Linked DNA regions of Homo sapiens: region 1 is linked to region 2. Evidence: fine-mapped expression QTL. Tissue or cell type: cerebellum. Region 2 holds a variant in brackets; the other region holds the start of a gene. All regions are shown on one strand. Distances are from middle to middle.

The links. PIP is the estimated chance that this variant, and not a neighbour inherited with it, causes the effect.
Region 1: it holds the start of ZNF197, and the variant in region 2 is fine-mapped to the expression of ZNF197 in cerebellum (GTEx, PIP 0.97).

Annotation. Positions count from the first base shown.
Region 1 is chr3:44,621,705-44,627,304 of GRCh38, reverse strand. ZNF197 (zinc finger protein 197) reads right to left here and starts at 2,269. Exons shown (of 6, transcript NM_006991.5): 1 at 2,162-2,269. All of the region lies in intron 2 of ZNF660-ZNF197 (ZNF660-ZNF197 readthrough), which reads right to left. The region is part of intron 2 of ZKSCAN7-AS1 (ZKSCAN7 ZNF cluster antisense RNA 1); the gene reads left to right. It overlaps ZNF197-AS1 (ZNF197 antisense RNA 1), which reads left to right and starts at 2,508. Exons shown (of 2, transcript NR_046658.1): 1 at 2,508-2,583. RefSeq lists an enhancer at 1,434-1,936 and a silencer at 1,916-2,265.
Region 2 is chr3:45,399,066-45,404,665 of GRCh38, reverse strand. LARS2 (leucyl-tRNA synthetase 2, mitochondrial) reads right to left here. Exons shown (of 22, transcript NM_015340.4): 4 at 4,293-4,421. Among named protein-coding and RNA genes, the nearest start is that of LARS2, 13 kb to the right of the region's middle. The variant C/T (reference allele first, on the strand shown) is at 3,094.

The sequences.
Region 1 (5,600 bases), 780 kb after region 2:
TGTCCTGTAAGTGAAGTGATTTTACTTACATTTCAGCATTAAAGAGGCTTTACTTTACATTTTTCCTTATTTTTAAAAATAGTAATATATTCACTTGGTTCAAAATTTAAAATTATAAAATGTATACTGTGTAAAGTTTCCTTCTCCGTTAGCTTCTTATCTATCTTTCCAGTTATTTCTGCATATGTGTGTACATATATTGTTTTCTAGTTCCCTTTTTTTCACAAATGGTAGGACACCATGAATGACGTGGTACATTTTCCTCTTCTCAATAATATGTCTTAGAGATCTTTCCTGTCAATACACAGCCCCTCTCCGCATTTTTATGGATGCATAGATGTATCATAATTTATTCATGCCAGCACTGATGGAATGTTTGGGTAGTTTTCAATCATTTCTTATTACCAACAATATAATCATGAATAATCTTGGGCATACATCAGTTTGGATGTGTGTAGGCATATATAAGAAAAATTCCTTGAATCAGAATTGCTGAGTTAAAAGGTATATACATGTATAATTTTGATATTGCCAATTTGACCTCACTAGGATTGAACCAATTTATAATTTATACTCCCATCAGAAACAGCTGTATGGGAGTGCCTTTCCTCACTTTCACCAATATGTTTCTCAAAGTTTGTGCTCTTCGCCAAATTTTTGACTTGCATTTTGAACGAATTAATATAGAGTCATTTGTATATTTTTTAAAGTAACTATTCATATATTTTGCCCATGTTTCCATTGAGGTGTTGGGTCTTGTTAATTTGTACACACTTTTATCACAGGAAAATTAGTCCTTTGTTTACAATGGCAGCTGCAAATTTTTCTCAGTTTGTCAAGTGTCTTTGTGACTATATATGCCATGTGACTTTGCTTAAAGTGTTTTTTGCCATGCAGTCAATCTTTTACGACTTCTGGGTACTGTACCACAATTAGAAAGACCTTTTTCACTCTGAGCATGAAGAGAGTCTTAAGTGGTGTCAGGACTCTATTAGTGAGAAATGGTGGGGGTGGGAGGGCTGGATATCAAGAAAGGTCAGTTAGGTTTTTCTAATAGTCTAAACACATGACTTAAGTTCTAAACGAAGTAGGGATAAGGCAATTGAGAAAAACTTGGTAGTCCTTGGTAACTGATCTGGGGGTGATGGAAAGGAATTTTTAAAAAGAATTTTGAATAATTTTCAAATAACATAAAAATAACAAATTCTTAAACATACATTTTATTAGCTTCTCACAAAAGGTTTTCAAAGCAGAAGTTAAAAAAAACAAAAGGATCAGAGGAGCGAATCCACTCAAGGCCACTTAGCTAACTGAGACATGGGAGCAAATTCTGAATTCAGGGATTCTAATTCCAGAAGTCCAAAACAATTCCATCTACGAAGAAACTTATGAAACCCAAACAACCCAAACTGTTCTAAAACAACAGTTTCCAAACACCAGTCCACGACAAAGCTTTAATCTGGTAAGCTGCAAAAAGAGAAAACCAGTAACAATCGTCGCTGACAGGTTGGCAATGAGTGTGTGTGTGTGTGTGTGTGTGTGTGTGTGTGTGTGCGCGCGCGCGCGCAAAGGCCAGCATTTATTCTGAGTTTACGGTCTTAGTACTTTGTGTTAAAATGTATTGCCTGAAGTAATGTTGGTATGGGTGGTTTCAAGTTTGAGTTTTTCAAGTTTGATTTTTAAATACCATTATATTACAAAACTAAAAGACTAAAAAAGCTAAAATCGTTCCACCCCTTAAAACAAACAAACAAAAAAATCCGTCCTCAAGAGTCTGGGCGCCACCGGTAATAGGGAAACCTCAGAATGTTTCTGTGGATTAGCCTCAGACAAGACTGAGGAAGAGCAGAAAGGCCTGAGCTGGGGGAGCAGGCTACTGAGGCAGCTCTTCTCAAAGCGCCAGCAGAGTCCGTTAGACAGGAGCACCGGTCCACAAACACACACAGACTCGGAGCTGCTGTCCTCAGTACTTCCCTCGGGCCGGCTGCCTGCCCAGCCGAGGCCACGACGTCGAACCCCAACACGAAGCTGGCGACGGACCATGCCGGGGGTCAGGGCCCGGGAGAGGCTACCGAGGGCTGTGCAGTCCCAGCAAGCTCAGGCCCGCGTCCCGGGCCGCCTTCCCTGCACGCCCACCCGCCCCCGAGCCCACCCCGCTCACCGGGGGCTCCCGCTGCGGCTCCAGCCTTGCGTACCGCCGCCTCGGCGCCAGGCCGCTAGGAGATGACACAGGAACGAGCCCTTCCGGCAGCCGAGGCACAGAATAATGGCCGAGCCGAGAATACTGCGACTTCCGGTTGCACCCCGCCCCTCATCCCGGATCTCTAGGAAGCCACATCTCTATGGTTCGTTTCTTTTCCCAGAACTGGGGAAGAGAGGCGGAACTCCTGAGCCCTTGGGTACTAGTGTTCCTTACATCGAACAAGAACTGGCCGCTGTTTCAGACCGGAAGGGTGCAGAGATGAAAGACAGGACCCAGGGTCTCAGGATGCCTGTTGCCTCCTAAGAGAGTTGGACATTTCTATTTTGATTTGCATTTCAATTGAGGTTGATAGGGAGTGACCTTCACGTCTGAATGACCTGGTAGGTGACTTTTCTGGTCTCTTCTTGAACTTATGCAATTCTCACTATAAATAATAACATGACTTATAAATCACCCTCTTGTGAATTCGCTTACTGTGGTGTATCTCTTGCCCACATGATGACATATTGGAGCTATGATATTAAATAATAATCAAGTTGATGGTGCAAGGTAATGTGCAAATGGTAGGGACATCTCTCCCCTGAAAGAAGAGGTTATTCTAGCTGTCCATCGCCCTGGGTAAAGTCAGGTGTATATAAAGGAAACTGGCACTCTGATCCTCTCTTTGGTCTTCAGTCTCTTAAGTTTGGACTTCTGGAACTGACACCCCTATATGGGACTATGGCTGAAACAAGTCTCCAAAAGGGCAAAGGCCATGTCTGCATGGATCCCATGTATTTAGCACCTAGTACAAAGCTGAAGCCATATAGGTTGTAGATGAATGTTTATTCAATGAGCAAGGTTCATGTTATTCTGTTTATGTCTTTTTTTTTTTTTTGAGATGGAGTTTTGCTCTTGTTGCCCAGGCTGGAGTGCAGTGGCGCAATCTTGGCTCACTGCAATCTCCACCTCCCGGGTTCAAGCGATTCTTCTGCCTCAGCCTCCTGAGCAGCTGGGATTACAGGCACGTGCCACCATGCCTGGCTATTTTTTTTTTTTTTTTTTTTTTTTAGTAGAGACGGGGTTTCACAATGTTGGCCAGGCTGGTCTTGAACTCCTGACCTCAGGTGATCCACCCCCACCTTGGCCTTCTAAAGTGTTGGAATCACAGGCGTGAGCCACCGTGCCAGGCTTATTCTGTTTATTTCTTTATGTTCTCTCCTGGCATTCATTAAACAACATACTTAAACTTCAGCCTTGATTCATTCATTCATTCAACTACTGAGTACTTGCCATATGCCAAATACTGTTCTGGGCACTAGGGACATAGATAAAGAGGTAAAGTCTCTGTTCTCATGGGGCTTACATTTCTAGTGGGATAAACAGAAAACAAATATAAAAATGTGTCAGGTGGTGGTAAATGCTAAGAAATGTGAAAGCTGATCATAAGAATTGGGTCATTTTTGTCATACCTAATAAAAGAAAGTCGAGAAATTAGCTGGGGGAAGCACTCAGGGTACACAACATTGCTCCAGGAATGTTATTCTCTGTAAGCTTGACTGCTGAAACTGCTTATTATAAGCCAAAACCAGTTTTATCTATAGCTTCTGAGATAAGTTGCTGCAACTCTAGGACTAATTTTGCCCACCGCAGTTGCTCACCAACTGGAGCTTGTCAGCTCCCCACACCCTTACTACTGCCAATGAACTTTCTCAAAGAGCAATATGTAACATTCCTCCTTTTTGTAAAACCTCTAACCTTCTCTTTGTTCTTCAGAGAGAGCACCACTTTCAGTTCAAGCCAGAGACTATCTCTCCGAGTTTGTAAACTGATGTTGTGAATAAAACTTTCTTTTCTTTCTTTCTTTCTTTTTTTTTTTTTTTTTTTTGAGATGGAGTCTCACTCTGTCGCCCAGGCTGGAGTGCAGTGGCGCGATCTCGCTCACTGCAACCTCCGCCTCCCGGGTTCAAATGATTCTCCTGTCTCAGATTCCTGAGTAGCTGGGATTACAAGCGCACGCCACCATGCCTGGCTAATTTTTTGTATTTTAGTAGAGATGGGGTTTCACCGTGTTGCCCAGGCTGGTCTCAAACTCCTGAGCTCAGGCAATCCACCCGCCTCGGCCTTCCAAAGTGCTAGGATTACAGGTGTGAGCCACTGTGCCGGCCAACTTTCTTTTCTACTATCTAGCCATCCTGGTGGTCCTTTGGATGACATAAAAAAGGGTAAGGAGGACCCAACAAAGGAGACTGAGAAGCAGCAGCCAATCAAGTAGGAAGAGAAGAAGGAAATAGTACTTTATGGGTCTCAAAGTATGAATGAGTAGATTTTGAAATATTGATCAATGTGATTGCTGTTCCCCCCACACTAAATTATAATTTTACTTGTAAACCAAGGCTCCCTTCTCCTCCCCTGCCCTACCTAGGTAGACAGGAGTTACACACTATGGGACTGGAAACAAAAGTGACAAAAACGATAGTGAGTTAGGCCATTAGAAGCCTTTAGTAAGGTGAAAAACATTCTTGCCTTGCTGGGAAAGAAGAAAGGAATGGGAGGAGCCAAAATGACCAACTAGACTATGGACCACTGACCAGTGAGCCTGTAATCATTCACACTCCTACTAAGCAATGGCCCGGAAGCATGTAACCAAAGAGTTGTCAGCTGGTAAGAACCACCAGTTGCCAGTGGCCAGCCCAGAGCCTCAGTTTTGTCACTCAGTTTGTGCCCTGAGATTCTGCCCATCTGACAAAGAACTTGAAGCACCCTCACCACTGTCCCAAGATGAAAGACTTGGTAACCTTGTGGAATGATGGTGATAGGAAAGGAACACCCTATCTTTGACCAAGGTGGAACTATACAAAACCTGTTTAAAGTGGGCCAGAGCTCTGGGACAGTGGTATAATACAACACATAGCCTTTGTTTTACATACACACACATTCCTGGTATTTAAAATCCCCAAATGTACTGGTGAAAAAAACTAAGCAAACAAGAAATAAATGAGTTTGAGATAGGCATATGAGAAGAGGCTGGAAGCACAGGACTGACATTTCAAGATGGGTTAAGATCTTAGACTACTGATCAACTAAAATGGAAATCCCGGTCTGAATGGAAAGTTTGTATTTCTCATCTTTCTATAAAACCCCACTTTGCCAGAGTTGTTTTTAATGCAAATTGGAATGTGATTGACCTATGACCAAGGATTATATGTATATAATATATATGGCTAAGAAATCTCAAGACATGCAATCTGAAGACCCAGGAGAGCTGAAGGTATAGTTGTAGTCCAAGATCTATAGGCCTAAGAAGCAGAAAAGCTGCTGGTGTAACTTCCAGTCTGAGTCCTAGTCGGAATCCAAATGTGTTAGTCTGTTCTCGCACTGCTATAAAGAAATGCCTGAGATTGGGAACTTTATAAAG
Region 2 (5,600 bases):
TTAGTGTGCCTTAGAACTATTTCATATATCTCCATTCAAGAATAGAGCTGGTGCTCAATGATTACTTACTGACTAAATTAATCAATACATGTGGCAGACCCTGTTTGGCAGGCCCAGATTAGATATTCCTTCCCTGCTTAGAGTGAGGATCGTTAAACTTGAGTCCAAGTTTATTCAATCTCAGGGACCAATCCTGACACTGGGCAGGAAAGATTTTAAAATGACAAGGAAGCTCAACAGACTTTCTTTCACATCACTGACAATGAAACCAAGATTTGTTTCTCTTTTCCCACATCACTTAAAAATGACCAGACAAGTTTTCACCAGATTTGGTGGTTGTATCTGAGATGCTGTGACTTAAATATGAACTATGAAAATTAATAAGAAATTAATTTCAGGAGAACCTAGAGAACACCCTGAAAAGAGGGCTTGCTATCTTAAACACAGCAACTGAAACTGTGAAACAAAAAGACAACCTTAGGTATCTGCTGATCACACAGACTAAGAAACCATCAACCAAATAACAAATAGTGGTTTCAACCATAAGCAAATCAAGCCACAGGATGGATAATATGAATTACAAGATTCATTTATTAAATGGTGACGAATCACCTTCCTAAGCAGCTCTGAGGAATAAGATCAGTATAAATAATAATTACAGCTGTCACTTATTATGGGATTATTATGTGCCAGATACAAGCACTATCTCATCTAATCCTCATAACCCTGTGAGGAATAAAGTATTGTTATCCCTATGTTAAAGATTAAGAAAGTGGGATACAGGGACATTAAATGACTCTGTAGAGTCGCTTGGCTAGAAAGTGGTAGGTTCAAATCTAGGTTGTTCAATTTCTGGGTCTAGCCTGACCTTAGGCTTCAGATATGGTAGGAGGACTCCTTGTCTTTTGGGCCTGAGCTGCCTGCAAGGGTACCAGTTCCTTTGGGCCTGGAGCTCTGCCTTGAGCCTCCTCTGTAACATCTCATCCCATCCAAGGAAATTAGAATCCCACCTACAAGCCCCTCAACCACCTGTTTTGCTAACAGGCTTCCCTGCACCCTATCATAAATGTACAGTTGCTATAAAAGCTTAACTGTCCCAAGGCGGGCGGATCATCTGAGGTCAGGAGTTCGAGACCAGCCTGACCAACATGGTGAAACCCCGTCTCTAATTAAATACAAAAATTAGCTGAGTGTGGTGGTGGGTGCCTGTAATCTCAGCTACTTGGAAGGCTGAGGCAGGAGAATTGCTTGAACCCAGGAGGCAGAGGTTGCAGTGAGCTGAGATCGCACCATTGCACTCCAGCCTGGGCAACAAGAGCGAAGATCCGCCTCAAAAAACAAACAAAAAAAAGCTTAATTGTAGGCAATTTGCCTGCACTCACTAATTGTCCGAAATAAGTTGGCCTAAGTTAAAAAAAATTTAGACAAATCTAATTAAAGAATCACAACTAGATTCTTTATCACAGTGAGATAAAGAATTGTCTTTATCTTTATCTTTAGGCAAAGAGCCAATTCATTCTGTCCCACATCTTTCTTTTTTTTTTTTTTTTTTTGTCTTTGGAGACGGAGTTTCGCTCTTGTTGCCCAGGCTGGAGTGCAATGGCATGATCTTGGCTCACTGCAACCTCTGCCTCCCGGGTTCAAGCAATTCTCCTGCCTCAGCCTCCCGAGTAGCTCAGATTACAAGCACGGGCCACCATGCCTGGCTAATTTTGTATTTTTAGTAGAGATGGGGTTTCTCCATGTTGGTCAGGCTGGTCTTGACCTCCCGACCTCAGGTGATCTGCCCACTTCGGCCTCCCAAAGTGCTGGGATTACAGGCATGAGCCACCATGCCTGGCCTGTCCCACCTCTTTCTAATAAACATAGCAGAAATAATGAAAAACAGTTATCTGGGAAAAATAACATCTGACAAAAACCAGAGAGACAAACACCCTCAGCCATCTTAAAGTGGAACACAAATCTCTGAATTTGGTAGTATAAAGTTATTTAACTCTTCAAGTGACAAAGACATTACAACGTGACCCTCTTTTAGGAATACTTCTTGCAGCCAATGTCAGCTCAGCATAAAATTTCAAACCAGTTATGACAATGGATGTACTTACCTTGCTAAAATAAAATAGAAAGAACTGAGAGGCAGCAGATATCATTTGTATAGGCCCTGACAGGTTCATAGTAGCAATGGCCACTGGGGTTCCAGTAAATGTTTAATTAACAATTGGCTCTCTGGAGGAAAAGGCCATGATTTGTAGGTTTGCTGATTACCATGACGTAAATACTCCCTCAATGGCAGATTTCAAGCTGCCAAGGTGACTAATAAACACAACATTGGGCAGAGATATACATAGTTGGCTCTCAGGTGCTGGTGTGTGCAGGTTCCTGTCCACTGCTGGCAATTGCTAATACTTATTGGTTACATACTGTGTGTTAGGTATCTAAGTGCTTCATAGTCATCCTCTTTGAATCCTTTTAACAGGCCAATGGGGCAGGTACTATTTTATCCCTATTTTATAGATGAGAGAAAACAAGGTGTTGAAGAGGTTAATTAATTAACTACTCAAAGGCCACACAGCTTGTAAGTATTAAGAGCTGGAATTTGAATCCTGGCAGTTTGGTTCAATGGGCCATGCTCTCAGCCCTTCTTGAATACTGCCATATTTCGTAGGTGGATAAAGAAGATATTATGATTATCCAACACCCATCTTAAAGATGATGTGTTGCTAAAGATTGCTAGTAAAGATTAGGCTCTGGGCTAGGTGCGGTAGCTCATATCTATAATCCTAGCACCTTGGGAGGCTGAGGTGGGTGGATTGCTTGAGCCCAGGGGTTCAAGACATGCCTGAACAACATGGTGAAACCCTGTCTCTACAAAAATTACAAAAAATTAGCTGAGCGTGGTGGCACACACCTATAGTCCCAGCTACTTGGGAGACAGAGTCGGAAGTTGAGCCTGGGAGGTCGAGGCTGCAATGAACTGTGATTGCAACCACAGCACTCCAGCCGGGGTGACAAAATGAGACCCTGTCTCAAAAAAATTTTTTTAAAAAGCAGGCGGGGGGTAAAGAGGAATGGCCCACATCAGCCAAGGAAGGG[C/T]GTTTGTCCTCCTCTCTCACAATAAATTTCACCTCATTCTTCAAGGCCCATATCAGATTCTTTTTTTTTTAAGATAGTGTCTCACTCTGTTGCCCAGGCTGGAGTGTAGTGACACAATTACAACTCACTGCAGCCTTGACCTCCCAGGTTCATGTGATTCTCCCACCTCAGCCTCCTGAGTAGCTGGGACTACAGGTGTGTGCCACCACACTGAGCTAATTTTTTGTATTTTTTGTGGAGACAGGGTTTTGCTACATTGCTCAGGCTGGTCTCGAACTCCTGGGCTCAAGTAATCCTCCTGCCTGGGCCTCCCAAAGCACTGGAATTACAGGCATGAGCCAGGTGCCCAGACCAGATGTTCCTTCTTTAGTGGCACTTTCCCCAACTCCCCAGAGTTGTTACTCCCCAAATATCTTTTCTTAAAAAAATTATTTTTTTCCATTAGAAAATAAATACATGCTCTGCCGGGCATGGTGGCTCACACCTGTAATCACAGCACTTTGGGAGGCCAAGGTGGGCGGATCACGAGGCCAGGAAATCAAGACCATCCTGGCTAACACAGTGAAACCGTCTCTACTAAAAATACAAAAAATTAGCCAGGCGTGGTGGTGGGCACCTGTAGTCCCAGCTACTCGGGAGGCTGAGGCAGGAGAATGGCGTGAACCCGGGAGGGGGAGGTTGCAGTGAGCCGAGACTGCGTCACTGCACTCCAGCCTGGGCGACAGAGCAAGACTCCGCCTCAAAAAAAAAAGAAAAGAAATACATGCTCAAAGAATATGGAAAATATCAAATAGAACAGAAAGAAATATCTTGCAGTCTCACCTGCCACTCATAGCACTGATGTGTATTTGTACTGTTGACCTCAGTTCGTTATATACAATGATTCTCTACTCATGGGTGAGTATCTCCTGGGAAGATTATCAGTGTTATCCACATTTGTATCTACCTTTCACCCCATTCCCATCTGATCTCCACCCCAGCACAACACCCAACTCATGGCTGCCCCCCAATTAACCTAGATGCTTTATTATAATATCATCTAATCCATAAAAGGAAACACTGAGCTTTTCATGTCCATCTTCAAAGCTGTCCTAATCTTAACTAAAGTTGGTTTTCTTCATTTGTCTTGAACACATATTACTACATGCCAACCCTGCGTGTGGCAGACAAGGGCTGCTCCAGCAGGCACCTGTTCTTACCTGCATCCCTCTCATCTTCTGGAACCGTGCTATGGTGTCGCTGATGGTGTAGACACGCACATGGCCCATGTGCAGCTTACCAGAAGGATAAGGGAACATGGAAAGCACGTAAAATTTTGGCTTCGATTTCTAGGAAAGAACGACAATGAGTATTTATTAAGCATTTTCTGGGAACTCTGCATGTATACATAATATTTTGGCATTTTACACAAAGTAATAATTTAACATTTTAAAAGTTTCCTTTTAAAAAGAGTGTTCCCAGAATGTAAATCAATTAAAATGTCAAAAAGCAAAATTCAAAGCCCTGGTTTAAGCTAAAGAATGTCCAAAATAATGCCAAACAACCTCTAAGTGTTAAGTACCCATATATCTTTTTTTTTTCTCTTTTAAAAACTTATTTTTTGAAAGGAATGAATTAACAGTATTTGCAGTGACCTGGGTGAGATTGGAGACTATTATTCTAAATGAAGTAACTCAGGAATGGAAAACCAAACATCTTATGTTCTCACTGATATGTGGGAGCTAAGCTATGAGGCATAAGAATGATACAATGGACTTTGGGGACTTTGGGGGAAGGGTGGAAAGGGGGGTGAAGGATAAAAGACTACAAATAGAGTACAGCCTATACTGCTCGGGTGAGGGGTGCACCAAAATCTCACAAATCACCACTAAATAACTTACTCATGTAACCAAATACCACCTGTACCCCAAAAACCTATGGAAAAAAAAAAGAAAGAAAGAAAAGCGGTCCCAATGCAGACCCGAAGAGAGGGTTCTTGGATCTCACGCAAGAAAGAATTCAGCGCCAGTCTGTAGAAGAAAGCGAAAGCAAGATTATTAGGAAAGTAAAGGGATAAAAGAATGGCTACTCCATTAAAAAAACAAAACAAAACAAAACAAAACAAAAAAACACTTCTCTTTTAAGACAGCTTCTATCTAGGTCCTTAAAGAACTGTTTGTTTTTCCGAAGGAAGCTCTAACATACATATATCCATATAATTCAAAGAAGCAATAGTTGAATCACATAGATGTAACATCTCTAAAAATGGAGTCTCTTCCTAAATTCTCTATAGCTGCATTCTGACGTAGGTTTAGCAGTAATAACAGGATCCTAAAGTACCAATTTGGGTCCTGAGTTTCCCCATTGTATTGAGAGCCTATCTTTCAACAAAAATGTTGAAATGGGAAGGTAATGAGAAGATCCTTTTAAAAAGGGAGAAGGTTGTTGTTCTCCAGGGATGATAAATAAGCAGCCTCAGACCAGGGTTATATAACTCTCCAGCTTCCAAAGAAGCAGCTTCATCATGA